2 linked regions of the Homo sapiens genome follow. The protein of the gene in region 1 interacts with the protein of each later gene in a pairwise test. Each region holds a gene or a part of one and is shown in the gene's direction. Other genes may lie near its edges.

What was found.
Region 2: the proteins of TCF25 (region 1) and DERL1 interact in binary tests that used the Homo sapiens proteins (3 or more experiments, as listed by UniProt).

What each region holds. Positions count from the first base shown.
Region 1 is NC_000016.10:89,904,576-89,911,600, forward strand, and holds the end of TCF25 (ribosome quality control complex subunit TCF25), read left to right. Parts: intron 1-362; coding exon 363-521; intron 522-1,618; coding exon 1,619-1,709; intron 1,710-2,667; coding exon 2,668-2,747; intron 2,748-6,015; coding exon 6,016-6,088; intron 6,089-6,504; coding exon 6,505-6,663; 3' UTR 6,664-6,804; downstream 6,805-7,025. UniProt on the Homo sapiens protein: Component of the ribosome quality control complex (RQC), a ribosome-associated complex that mediates ubiquitination and extraction of incompletely synthesized nascent chains for proteasomal degradation.
Region 2 is NC_000008.11:123,025,297-123,032,321, reverse strand, and holds part of DERL1 (derlin-1), read left to right. Parts: intron 1-1,565; exon of another isoform or gene 1,566-1,605; coding exon 1,606-1,717; exon of another isoform or gene 1,718-2,092; intron 2,093-6,549; exon of another isoform or gene 6,550-6,599; intron 6,600-7,025. UniProt on the Homo sapiens protein: Functional component of endoplasmic reticulum-associated degradation (ERAD) for misfolded lumenal proteins. Forms homotetramers which encircle a large channel traversing the endoplasmic reticulum (ER) membrane.

The sequences.
Region 1 (7,025 bases):
TCAAAAAACAAAATAAACAAAGAGGGAGCAAACACAGGAGAAAGTGCACGCCTTGGGGTCATCCCCTGGCCCTCCAGGGCTCGCCCTGTGTGCACGCAGATGGACCCGCCCTGGGTGCATTTTCACATTTCTGTGACGTCAGTCCTGCTTCCTAAAGAACATAACCTGCCCAACAGGCTCACGGCACATACCTGTGTGCCCCAGCCCCACGCCCTCAGGCCAGCAGCCCAGGGGCCTCCTTTCACTCCAGGCCACAGGGCACTCCCTGGACCCCCCGTCTGCCCATCCATGGGGCTCTGCCAGCCTCGAGGCAGGCTGTGGTCTGAAGAGGGGTTCTGCTCAGAGCCCTTGCTCTCCCCCAGCCAGCCCCCTGCCCTGAGCCAGCTGGTGAACCTGTACCTTGGGAGGTCACACTTTCTCTGGAAAGAGCCCGCCACCATGAGCTGGCTGGAGGAGAACGTCCACGAGGTTCTGCAAGCAGTGGACGCCGGGGACCCAGCCGTGGAAGCCTGTGAGAACCGGTGAGCTAGGGGTTGACACAAGCCCTGCCACGCCCCCTCCTCAGGGACCCTCATCCCAGACACGGGGGCCTCGCATTCGGGAGGCGAGAAGGGCTGTGAGCAGCTTGGCCTCCCTTGCTGTGGGGCCTGTGTGGAGCCTACAAGACAGCGCACAGCCCCTGGCGTGTCCCAGAGGCTTCCTGGGAGGCAGCTGTGGTGATCAGCGCAGGGTACCGAGCTGCTGTTCCCGGGTGCCTCGGGCTGGAGTGGTGCCTTCGGGTCTTGCAGTGTTTCCACATGAGCTGTGAGATGATGACGAGTCTCTCACAGCAGCATCTTGGGAGTAAAGAAATCTGGCAGAGACGAGAAAGAGTCTCCTGTCCTGTGTGTGAACACTTCGGAGGCTCATGCCCTAATATGCTGCAACTGACAGGCATCCCCTTGCTGTTCTTGTCTCGTTTGTCTGCGCCCTTGGCCCTGTGCTAGTTCTGTGCATCAGCACCGTGGCTCTGTGCAGTGGTGTGGCCAGGCTCAGGACCGCCTGGGAGTGGTGCCCATTTGCATCTCCACAGTGAAGTCTGTGTGCCGCGGACATGAGGTGTGCCCGGGGGTGCCCAAGAGGCGCTGGTGCCCCCAGCCGCTGGCAGTCATGGGCCCGTCCGCGTGTCTGCTGTCCCCACTGGACTGGACATTCTCATGGACAGGAGCATTTTGTTCCCTGTACTGCTCTCCAAGAGCGATTTCCAGCAGGGACCAGTGCCTGTGCCTGTAGCCGTAGCAGTGACGATGGTGACACACCCAGGTGTCCCTTCATGGAGATGAACTCAGTGACTTCCCACAAGAAGCCACTGGCTACGGCTCTCATCGTTCTTGTTCTTTGGATGAAGAGGCTGAGTCACTGGCCATGTGGCTGGGATTGGTCCCCAGAGGCTCCCCAGCCGCAGGCCAGGGACCAGCCATGGTGCCTCTGCTCGAGAGTAAAGTGTACAGTTTTTGCAGCCACCAGAGATGCAGCGAGATGCCTCGTGCTGGGTGGGGGTGGGGGCCGAGGCTCCATGGCGGTTACCATTTCATTTGCTGTGCTTTATCTGCTGTGCCTTGTTTCTCCCCGGCCCTAGGCGGAAGGTGCTCTACCAGCGTGCACCCAGGAATATCCACCGCCATGTGATCCTCTCTGAGATCAAGGAAGCCGTCGCTGCCCTGCCCCCGGTAAGGGAGAAAGGCTGAAATGGGAGCTCTGTGTAAGCCGGTCACATGCACGTCCCTTCTGCTCCGGGCGGTCCACATGCAGGCGTGCGTGGTGCGGGCTCCCTCAGCAGCCCAGCCCCGCCACGGCAGGGGCAGGGTCTAGTGCAGAGGGCTCCTCCTTTCCTGGCAGCCCGGGTTCGGATGCTTGTTGTTTTGAGAGAGAAATCCTTTGGGGCTCAGAGCACAAGCTGAGTCGTCACCGTGGTGAGCTGCTCCATCCGTGGTCTTGTGAGCGCGTGGTGCGGCTGCTGGGGGATTCTCTGTAGTCGTGGGGTGTAGTCCTGCTCTGACGCCTCCTGTGCTGGAGGTGCCGTTTCTGTCTCAAAACCTAAGGAGTTTGTACTGTTGTTAAGGGATAAGATAGAACGAGTGAGAAAACCAGCAAGTCAGAGGGTCGCAGGACCGTGGACCGTCCACTGGGGACAGCTTAGTGCCTCCTGGTTTAACTTCAGCTGCTCTGCGGGCCCTTATGACCGGCATGGCTGGCTTTGTCTGGGGCTGTGAGCTTCTGACTCTCCTCAGTAGAGTGGCAGCACGTGGCACTGTGCAACCCGAGGGCAGCTCAGGGTCCCTGTAGCCTGCATTTGCTGAAGTGGGAGCTTCTGACACGTGGTGAAGATGTTGGCAGGCTTGAGCGGCACGTGACCCCCTTCCTTCCCCACCACACACTCTGGTGTGCAGGGCAGACGCCGTGCAGGTTCATCTCGACTCCCGTGAGTGTCCTGGTGGCAGAAGGACTGTCCCACCCTCACCCAAAGCTCGTTGGTACAAAAAGCACAGCCGTTTCTGTCAGACTCTGTGGCTATCTCTCAGCAGATGCATCCAGTCCATGCTGGAGTCGACAGAAGGACTCTGCTGGGAGAGGTAGAGGCCCCCTGGCAGCATCTGTAGCATCTTCGTTTTATGTCCCTTTCTGAAGGACGTGACCACGCAGTCTGTGATGGGGTTTGATCCTCTGCCTCCTTCGGACACAATCTACTCCTACGTCAGGCCAGAGAGGTACCTCCCTCCTTCCAGTTCCCACCTCCCAGCTCCCACCTCCCTCCTCCCAGTTCCCAGCTCCCAGCTCCCACCTCCCAGCTCCAACCTTCCAGCTCCCAGCTCCCACCTAGCAGCTCCCGGCTCCTGGCTCCCACCTCCCTCCTCCCACCTCCCACCTCCCAGCTCCCACCTCCCTCCTCCCACCTCCCACCTCCCTCCTCCCAGTTCCTACCTCCCATCTCCCAGCTCCCAGCTGCCACCTCCCAGCTTCTGCCTCCCTCCTCCCAGTTCCCACCTCCCAGCTCCCACCTCCCAGCTCCCGCCTCCCTCATCCTAGTTCCCACCTCCCAGCTCCCAGCTCCCTCCTCCCACCTCCCACCTCCCTCCTTTCACCTCCCACCTGCCACCTCCCGCCTCCCACCTTCCAGCTCCCGCCTCCCACCTTCCAGCTCCCGCCTCCCTCCTCCCAGTTCCCACCTCCCACCTCCCAGCTCCCACCTCCCAACTCCCTCCTCCCACCTCCCACCTCACCTCCCTCCTCCCTCCTTCCAATTCCCACCTCCCAGCTCCCAGTTCCCACCTCCCAGCTCCCGCCTCCCACCTCCCAGCTCCTGCCTCCCTCCTCCCAGTTCCCAGCTCCCACCTCCCTCCTCCCGCCGCCTAGCTCCCACCTCCCAGCTCCCGCCTCCCACCTCCCAGCTACCGCCTCCCTCCTCCCAGTTCCCAGCTCCCACCTCCTACCTCCCAGCTCCCGCCTCCCACCTTACAGCCCCTGTCTCCTCCCTCCTCCCAGTTCCCAGCTCCCAGCTCCCGCCTCCCTCCTCTCACCTCCCCTGCCACCTCCTGCCTCCCTCCTCCCAGCTCCCACCTTCCAGCTCCCGCCTCCCTCCTCCAAGTTCCCACCTTCCAACCCCGCCTCCCTCCTCTCAGTTCCCACCTCCCAGCTCCCACCTCCCAGCTCCCTCTTCCCTCCTCCCAGTTCCCACCTCCCAGCTTCCTCCTCCCACCTTCTAGTTCCCACTTCTTTCCTCACAGTTCCCACCTCCCAGCTCCCATCTTCCAGCTCCCAGCTCCCACCTCCCTCCTTCCAGTTTCCACCTCCCAGCTCCCACCTCCCACCTTCCAGTTCCCACCTCCTTCCTCGCAGTTCCCACCTCCCAGTTCCCACCTGCCAGCTCCCACCTCTTTCCTCGCAGTTCCCACCTCCCACCTTCCAGCTCCCACCTCCCAGCTCCCTCCTCCCACCTTCCAGTTCCCACCTCTTTCCTCGCAGTTCCCACCTCCCAGCTCCCGCCTCCCTCCTCCCAGCTCCCACCTCCCAGCTCCCACCTCCCACCTCCCAGCTCCCACCTCCCAGCTCCCACCTCCCTCCTCCCAGCTCCCACCTCCCGCCTCCCAGCTCCCACCTCCCGGCTCCCGCCTCCCAGCTCCCAGCTCCTGCCTCCCACCTGCCAGCTCCCAGCTCCCGCCTCCCTCCTCCCAGTTTCCACCTCCCAGCTCCCACCTCGCAGCTCCCAGCTCCCAGCTCCCACCTCGCAGCTCCCAGCTCTCTCCTGCAGCTCTGAGGTCAGGGCTTTGGGGCTCACAGGGACTGGCTGCCTCTTTCAGACCCAGATGCTGAGAGATGGGGCTCAGGGCTAAGTGGGTCTTTCCCCTCACAGGAAGGGAGAGGAGGAGAGGAACAGTGTTATTTGGGGGTCACAGCTCTGCGTTTGCAGGCCACGTTCTTTCCCATCTCCACCGAATGTACAAGCGCTTGCGTGTCGGCCTCTGTGGCAGGTGCGAGTGACACAGTGGAAGCAGGTGTGCAGTGAAGTGGGGAAAACATATTAATTTTAGAATGTAGAAATAAACATAAAATCAAAACTGCACCAGCCTGGCCAACATGGCAAACCCCGTCTCAACTAAAAATACAAAACTTAGCCAGCTGGGTGCAGTGACTCACGCCTGTAATTCCAGCAGTTTGAGAGGCCAAGGTGGGCAAATCACAAGGTCAAGAGATTGAGACCAGCCTGGCCAACGTGCTGAAAACCCGTCTCTACTAAAATACAAAAAAATTAGCTGGGCGTGGTGCCGCACACCTGTAGTCCCAGCTACTTGGGAGGCTGAGGCAGGAAAATTGTTTGAACCCGGGAGGCACAGGTTGCAGTGAGTGGAGATCGTGCCACTGCACTCCATCCTGGCGACAGAGGAAGACTCCGTCTCAAAAAAAAAAAAAAAAAAAAAAATTGGGCGTGGTGGGTTGTGCCTGTAGTCCCAGCTACTCAGGAGGCTGAGGCAGGAGAATCCCTTGAACCCGGAAGGAGGGGGTTGCCGTGAGCTGAGATCACGCCACTGCACTCCAGCCTGGGTGACAGAGTGACTCCATCTCAAAAAAAAAAAAAAAAAAAATCCTCCAGTAAGGTGTTTGGAGGAAGGATGGTGGCTGTGCTGAGACGGAGAGGATGAATGTGCCCTCACCAGGCTCAGGGGAGAGGGTCCTTGTGTTCCCCAGCAGAGTCACGATGTGCCGAGGCCCTGTGCCAGGAGCAGAGCACACGGCACATTGAGAGAACAAAAGCCCCATGGCCAGACCGGGAGAGCAGGGCTGCGGCGCAAGAGGGCCAACTGCCAGGCGGCCGGTGTGTCTGGCTTTCAGAATCCGGGTCATTGAAAGGCTTTTTACCTTTTCCTTCTGGGCTGGAAAGTACTTGCCTTACCCAGGCCCCGTCACCCGCACAGCGGTCGTCGTGATTATCCCTGCCGGCAGGGTGTTGCAGCATTGAGGAATCGCGGTTCTTTGCTGCCTCCCTCCGCTGTGGAGCCCAGGCTTTCGCCCTCCCTAGAGCTCCTGAGGCCTGGCCGCTCAGCGTCCTGTAGAGCCGGGCCGGTAGCCCTTCGCACCGTGAGGGTCTCCGCTTAACGCAGGCCCTGGAAGCTTCTGCCTTTGCGTAAGGAGTGGGTGCTGAAGGAGACGTTGAAACTGCAGCTTTTCTGAAAAGCAAGGCACCTGTGCAGTGGCCGAGGATGGCTGTGGGAGCCTCGCTCCGGACGCCACGCCTGCCTCAGCTGAGTTGGTCTCCCTCATCCTGTTCCCGCTGTCCACAGCCCCACCCTAAGCTGATGAGGAAGCCTCACGGGCCACCCGGGGAATCCAGGGCCTGTGCTCAGCTGCTGCTGCTCTGCCCCCTGGCGGCCCCTCCGTGTCCCTGCGAGGGAGGCAGCTGGCAGGCAGCCCCGTGAGCCGGGTTGGGTCCCACGAGTCTCAGTTCAGTGTCGTTTCTGACTTTTCTTGACTTTCTTTCAGGCTAAGTCCTATCAGCCATGGAAACACCATTGCTCTCTTCTTCCGGTCACTGTTGCCAAACTATACCATGGAGGTAGGTTGAGCTCGTCCCAGCCCCTGCCTCCCCAGTGGGTGCGGGCATATCCATTCCAGTGCGAATGCCTGGAGCCTCCTTGAACCAGGACTGTGCCAGCCGGCACAGGGAGCAGGGAAGGACCAAGGCTGCATTGTGCCAGTGGGGTGCCCATTCTGCCGGGGAAACTGGGGCCTGCCCAGATGGTAGCAGATGCAGGGCCGTGAGTCAGCCGGCTTGATCCCACTCTGTGCCTGGCTTGGTCTAGACACGGCATTTGGTTTTGAGAGCTTCCTCCTCACAGGGACCTGGGGAGGGTTCAGGGTCCGGTGCTGGGGCAAGGGCCACCTCGGGCTCCACAGTGCCTCCTGCTTGGGCCCCGGGCCCCTAGTCCCAGCACAGACAGCCCCCTTCTCAGACATGTCCCCTTGCTGCAGGGGGAGAGGCCCGAGGAAGGAGTGGCTGGGGGTCTGAACCGCAACCAGGGCCTGAACAGGCTGATGCTGGCTGTGCGCGACATGATGGCCAACTTCCACCTCAACGACCTGGAGGCGCCGCACGAGGACGACGCTGAGGGGGAGGGGGAGTGGGACTGAGCGTCCGCAGAGGTGACCGAAAAGCCGTATGATGATGTTCCCGATTTCTCTGTTGGTCGGAGTCGGCCAGTTGCCTGAAGTAGGGAAGCTGAGTGTGTCGCTCCCTGGTCCACTGTTTCTCCTATAAATGTAAATGGGTCACGCTCTGCCGTCCGCACCTTCTCCTTTCGCAGGCACTGAGCGCCGTCCCATGCCCTCGGATTCGAATCACACTCAGTCCATTCTCCTCCCAGTGGCTTGTGGGTGAGGTGGGGCCCAGACCCCATGCTTCCTGTGCTCCCAGGATCTGGGCACGGGTGGAGAAGGGGCCCCACGGGGTCTTCAGTGCAGGTCCCTGCTGAATGCCAAGGCCCTGGGTGCAC
Region 2 (7,025 bases), on another chromosome or scaffold:
ATCTACAAAAAATATAAAAATTAGCCAGGTGTGGTGGTGCATGCTGGTAGTCCCAGCTACTTGGGAGGCTGAGGTGGGAGAATCACCTGAGTCCAGGAGGTGGAGGTTGTAGTGAGCTAGGATCATGCCACTGCACTCCAGCCTGGGCATCAGAGCAAGATCCTATCTCGGGGGGGAAAAAAAAAATGTAAATCCAGAAAAACAAATGAATAAAGGAAATGCTCAGGTTTTTAAAACGTGAAAAGGTGCTTGACTTCTCATAATGCAAATAAAAATTAGTTTTCAGATTGGTGAATATATAATACATGAAATGGTGAGAGTATGGAGAGAAGACAGGATTCATCTACTTTTTAGGAGGAAGTATAAATTGAGCAAACATTTTTGTAGGCATTTGGCAGTATCTACCAAAATAAATGGTTATGTCTGTTGCTCTAGCAGATTTATTGACAGGAACTTATTCTGTATATGCACATATAAAGAGGATATACAAGAATATTCATTGTGGCATTGTAACAGTTTAAACAAAAGTTTAGACATTCACATACAAGGAATACTATGAAGCCAATTAAAATATTTTGTAGGGAATGAACCAAGGTATAAAACAGTGCCGTATAGAGTAGGATAAAGAAGAATGAGTAATAGTAACATGTATTTCTTAGAGGAAATACAAGACACTGATCAGCTGTTGTTGGGGAACTGGGAGACTGGAGGTTGGGAATGAGGCTTACTTGTTACTTTATTATTTAATTTATTTTAATTAAATTAAATTTAATTTTTTGAGACGGAGTTTCGCTCGTCACCCAGGCTGGAGTGTAGTGGCGCGATCTTGGCTTACTGCAACCTCCGCCTCCTGGGTTCAAGCGATTCTCCTGCCTCAGCCTCCCGAGTAGCTGAGATTACAGGCCCCCGCCACCTCACCTGGCTAATTTTTGTAATTTTATTGGAGACAGGGTTTCACCATGTTGGCCTGGCTGGTCTTGAACTTTTGACCTCAGGTGATCTGCCTGCCTCAGCTTCCTAAAGTGCTGGGATTACAGGCATGAGCCACCGAACCTGGCCTGCTTGTTACTTTAGACCCTTCTTATGTTTTGTTTGTTTTTTCAGGGAAATGTTTTTAAAGAAAAAGTGCCCCTATTGCCTATTTAGTGCATTGGTTTGAATAAAAAATTGTTGTTTTACTTCTGCCTTTGAATGTGGCATTTTTGGACAAGGTTTGTCATTCCAGAATATTCTTTCCCTAAATAGAGGCATTACTGTACTGTTGGAAATTAAGCCTTTGTAATTCATTTTTTGATGTAGGCTTAATTGTATGCCTGATCTCAGCAAAGACTAACCATATACTCATATAGTATTGATTTTGTTTCAACTTGTTTAGAAATATTTGTTGCTTATTTTATGATGTCGTTTTATTCCATTGATTTGCAAAGTGATGTGATTGTATTTGGTGTGAACACTTTTCTTCAGTTGTTTTCTTGAGTTGTGTTGGTAGGATCACTTTCACACCTCTCATTGAGGAGGATGCTTTGTTAATTTTGTTTAGTTAGAAGGGAAAGAAATAACCAGGCTTACAGAAACTAACAGCTGTGTTTATTTTGATCTGGACAGATTTGGAGGCCAATCACTGCCACCTTTTATTTCCCTGTGGGTCCAGGAACTGGATTTCTTTATTTGGTCAATTTATATTTCTTATATCAGTATTCTACGCGACTTGAAACAGGTATGTTACCCATAGTTGTTTTAAGCATTGTTTCTTTCTCATTTACTAATCCATGTGTTTACTTTGGAGGAATTTGGAGGGCAGTTAGCATTACAAAAAGAAACTGCATAAAGATAGTAAATGCTTAGTGACTGTGCCAGGACTGCACCAGGCACTTAGCTTACTCAATTTTTAATCCTCACAACATCCTGAGGTATAAGTAGCAGTGTTACCATTTTATAGATGCAAAAAGTAGCAGATCAGAGGTTGACATGGCTTGTCCATCTCCTTAGTGGCTGAGCTGTGTGCCTTTCATTTATTTTGAGGGTCTCACTCATTTCTTTTGCAGCAGTCCTTGTCCTTCAGTGCAGAATTGGGCTGGAGTATATATGTCTCCTAGATTGGGGTTGAAAAACATCAATTTATGTAATTAAAAGCCTAGATTTATTCTCTAATTGAAAAACTCAACTCTAAAATACAGTATATAGCCAAGATTTAATAATATATGGTAGTTTATCAGGTATGAGTACCAATGTAATATTTTATTTTATTTATTTATTTATTTTTTGAGACAATCTTGCTCCGTTGCCCAGGCTGGAGTGCAGTGGTGCCATCTCAGTTCACTGTAGCCTCTGCCTCTCGGGTTCAAGCAATTCTCATGCCTCAGCCTCCTGAGTAGCTGAGATTACAGACACCTGCCACCATACCCGGCTAATTTTTATATTTTTAGTAGAGATGGGGTTTTACCCTGTTGGCCAGGCTGGTCTCAAACTCCTGACCTCAAGTGATCTGTCTGCCTCAGCCTCCCAAAGTGCTGGGATTACAGGTGTGAGTCAACGTGCCCAGCCAACCTATGTAATATTATGGATAAGTTCGAAAAATCTTTTCGTAAAAGTGTCTTACTGAATTGTCATTTATTTCCTACAATACCTTATATGCTGTCTGAGTCACTTATACTAAAGAAACAATACATCAATACACTGTGTTACAATATGGATATAATTTTGTTAAATTTAAATGACTTTGAAAAGGCTGACTGACTTCAGAGACTTTATAAACTTGCTGGCTGTTACCTCAGGATAGAGAACTCTGAACTACCCTTAAGTGTATGTAAGTCAGTGCTCATATGGTTGAGAATTGCGAATCAGTCTCATCACTGCAGGGAAATAGTAGGATGGGTATTTGATGTCAAGTAACATTTTTCCTTAAATTGGCATTTGCTTTTAGGTTCTTTTTAAAAAGAAAGAAATTGTATTAATACAAAGTGTAAGGTCATAGACTATTATATTACTATTGGGAGGAACCTAGTTTATTTCCTGAGTTTTACCAAAAGATGAATAGGAGATTCAAGGAAGTAAAGTAACTTGGCAGAAATGAAACTGACAACTAGGCCTCTCACCACCATATTAGGGGTTTGATCTTTAAATCTACCAGAATATGTGATTTTTATTCTCCTTTGTTCCAGTTGGACCCATAATGATACTGAGTGCTTAGCAGTCTGCCTTTCTGGTATAACTTAATTGAGCATTAATTTGTTAGAGTAATTTTTTTTTTTTTTGAGACAGGGTCTTGCTCTGTCACCCAGACTGGAGTATAGTGGCACAGTCATGGCTCCCTGCAGCCTTGACTGCCGGGGTTCAAGTGATCTTCCCACCTTAGCCTCCCTAGTAGCTACAAGGATGGGTGTTAAACCGCCACACCTGGCTGACTTTTGTATTTTTTGTAGAGATGGGGTTTCACCATGTTGCCCAGCCTGGTCTTGAACTCCTGGGCTCAAGAGATTTGCCCACCTTGACCTCCCAAAGTGCTGGGATTACAGGCGTGAGCCACTGTGCCCAGCTGGAGTAATTATTTTATATTGATAGTAAACGTTATATCAATAGTAAAATAGATTAAGTGTGGATCATTTATGATCAGTTATTTAAAATTTTATTCTGGAAAATTTTCAAACATATGCAAAAGTGGAGGGAAAAGTCAATGAACCTTTTTTCTTTTTACTGAGACCAAATTCACATAACATAAAATTCATCATTTTAACCATTTTAAGGTGTACAATTCAGTGGTCTTTAGTATATTCACAATGTTATGCAGCCATCACCACAATCTAATTCCAGAACAGTTTCATCATTCCCTAAAAAAGCCAAAGCAGTCACTCTTTACCTCCCACTTTCCCTCCTCCCAGCCTTTGGCAACCACTAATCTACTTTCCGTGTATATGGATTTACCTATTCAGGACATTTCATATGTCCTTTGGTGACTGGCTTCTTTCACTTTGCACAATGTTTTTAAGGTTCATTCCTGTCATAGTGTGTGTCAGTACGAACCCCTCCTTAACCATCTAATGGTTATCACCTCTAATAGTTATCTCATAGCCAATCTTGTTTTATTTATATCTATTGCTGTCCTCCACCCCTGATTATTTGAAGCAAAATGCCAGGCATTTCATTTGTAAATATTTCAGAATTTAACTCTGAACTATAAGGACTTAAAACATAATTCTAATGCTATTATTAAACCTAAATTGCAATAATTCCATGGCCACTTTTTTTTTTTTTTTTTTTTGAGATACAGTTTCACTCTGTCACCCAGTCGGGGGAGTGCAGTAGCGTGATCTCAGCTCACTGCAACCTCTGCCTCCTGGGTTCAAGTGATTCTTGTGCCTCAGGCTCCCGAGTAGCTGGGATTACAGGTGCATGCCACCACATCTGGCTAATTTTTGTGTTTTTGGTAGAGATGGCATTTCGCCATGTTGGCCAGGCTGGTCTCAAACTCCTGACCTTAGGTAATCCACCTGCCTCAGCCTCCCAAAGTGCTGGGATTACAGGCGTGAGCCACTGCACCTGGCCAATGGCCACTTTTATTTTTAATTGCCTTCTTGTGCTTTGAATCCCTTTACCCAACCCTATTACCTGGTCAGGTAATACAACAAATTGTAATGTTATTCTCTCTGAATACCAATTTAGGACAAATTTGTGGGATTATTAGGTCACTGGTCTCTTTTATTTGCTTTGATTTTTATAAGTTGCCTCCTCATTCCCTACTCAACAACTACAGAGCATTTTGAAAGGCTTGAGCTGAGAGGCATTTTTTAACAGCTTTATTGAGATGTAATTCATGTACGGTACAACGTACCCATTTAAAGTATACACAATTCATTGGTTTTTAGTATATTGACAGAGTTGTACAGTCATTATCACACCCATTTTTATAATATTTCACCACCCCCAAAAGAAACCCTACCATTAGCAGCCATTCTCCCTTTTCATTCAATCCCTTCCTCCCCCACACCCTTAGGAGACCACTAAATTTTTTTTTTTTTTTTTTTTTTTTTTGAGACAGGGTCTCACTCTGTCGCCCAGGCTGGAGTGCAGTGGCACTGTCTTGGCTCTTTGCAACCTCTGCATCTCGAGTTCAAGCAATTCTCATGCCTCAGCCTCCTGAGTAGCTGGGACTACAGGCACGCACCACCACATCTGGCTAATTTTTGTATTTTTAGTAGACAGGTTTTCACCATGTTGGTCAGGCTGGTCTCAAACTCCTGACCTCAAGTGATTCGCCCACCTCAGCCTCCCAAAGTGCTGGTACTACAGGCGTGAGCCACTGTACCTGACCAAAACCACTGATCTTATTGACTCTTTAGATTTGCGTGTTCTGGGCATTTCTTAAAATCATACAGTATCTTGTTGCCTTTTGTGACTTATGTCTTTTACGTAGCATAATGTTTTCAAGATTCTTCCATATAGCCTGTATCAGTACTTCATTCCATTTTATTACCATTAAGATTCCATCGTATGGATATACCTCATTTTGTTTATTCAGTCATCAGTTGATAGACATTTGACTTGGTTTCATTTTTTGGCCATTGTGAATAATAGCTGCTATGAACGTGTAGAGAGGAACTTTTGAGATCATTCTATTTAACACTCTTATTTCATAGATAAGAAAACAGTGATCTAGAGTGGTGGTGACGTGTCCCAAAAGTTGCAGAGCTCTTTGAGTTAACGCAGTTAGGACTGGAACCCAGGTTCACTGATCCCCAGTTTTCTGTCAACCACACAGCTTTAAGTTAACATCTTGACAAAATGTTTGCCACCTGCACATTTTCCTGCCTGGCTAAATTGTTAGTTATATAGCAGAGTTGGCTTATTTGAGGTTTCTGATTTGAACTGGAAGACTGTAATTTGAAACCAGTTAATTTGTAAATTCTCAGTTGCAAGCATGTCAGATAATATAGTGCTGTAATTTATATGATTACAATATTTTAAGTACTCAGTCTAAAGACTCCTTAGGAATCAGACAGCCAAAGCCACATCAAAAGAAGCACAGCTATTATTAAAATCGGGAAATTGTGTTAGAATTTCAGCTGTGATTCATCATTGTGATCCTCTAGCATTAGGCCTGCTTAACACTGTGGCTGAAGTGTGCTTTGAGGTATCAAGGGAGAAATAAAGGAGAGTAGAAGACACTTTTGCTGGAAACCTATTTTCTTTTAATTATATCTTTTTGCCTTACTGACACTTGTTGGGTTTCTTTTTTTAAATTGACTAGCTGTATCATGTAACTGTGAGGGGGTGTGGAACGGGGAGGGAAAGTAACTTTCAAGCTAGAGTGATCTTACAGTCATTTCTGTTTCTTTTTTTTTTTTTCTTCTGTTAAAGTCTTCTAACTGAAGGCATTAGGAATTATGCTTACACGGGAGGCCGTTGTTGATTATTCTGCCCAATAAGGCATATGGCGCAGTGACAGGAGCACTGTGCTAGTAATTTGATGTCACTCTGGTTCTAACAAGCTCTGTGACTTTGGTCATGTGACTTTAACTCTGCATCTGTAAGAAGCAGGTCGTAGGTCTTTCCATTCTCCCTTCCAGATGCAGTATGAGGACTGAGTCAGAGGCTATGGAAAGGTTTGGCTGACGCTTTATTCCCTCCTTCCCCCACATTGTTTTCCCTTGGTAGAATGTACGTCTCTGGAAGACAGAGACTTTCTTTTTCAGTATCTAAGGCCAGTGTGGTACAGGTGGTTGTGTGTGTGTATGTGTGTTTCTAATAATAATGGTAAGTACCTCCCAGCATAGCCATGCTGGAGGAGACACAATGGAGACAAAACAGGCATGGTTCCTCCTCTGACAGAACTTAACGGTCTAGTGGAGGAGGACAGGGATCAAGCATGTAATCCAGAATGCGGCCATCAGGTCATGGCGAGAGCCAAGAAGGAAAGGCTGACAGGCTGGGAGGGAGCTTGGGGGGCCTCACTGGTCTTTGGGATACAGGGCTCAGAAGCTGTGGAATTGACTGTACTTTCTCTGGGTCTGTTTTAGCCTGTGGTAGTC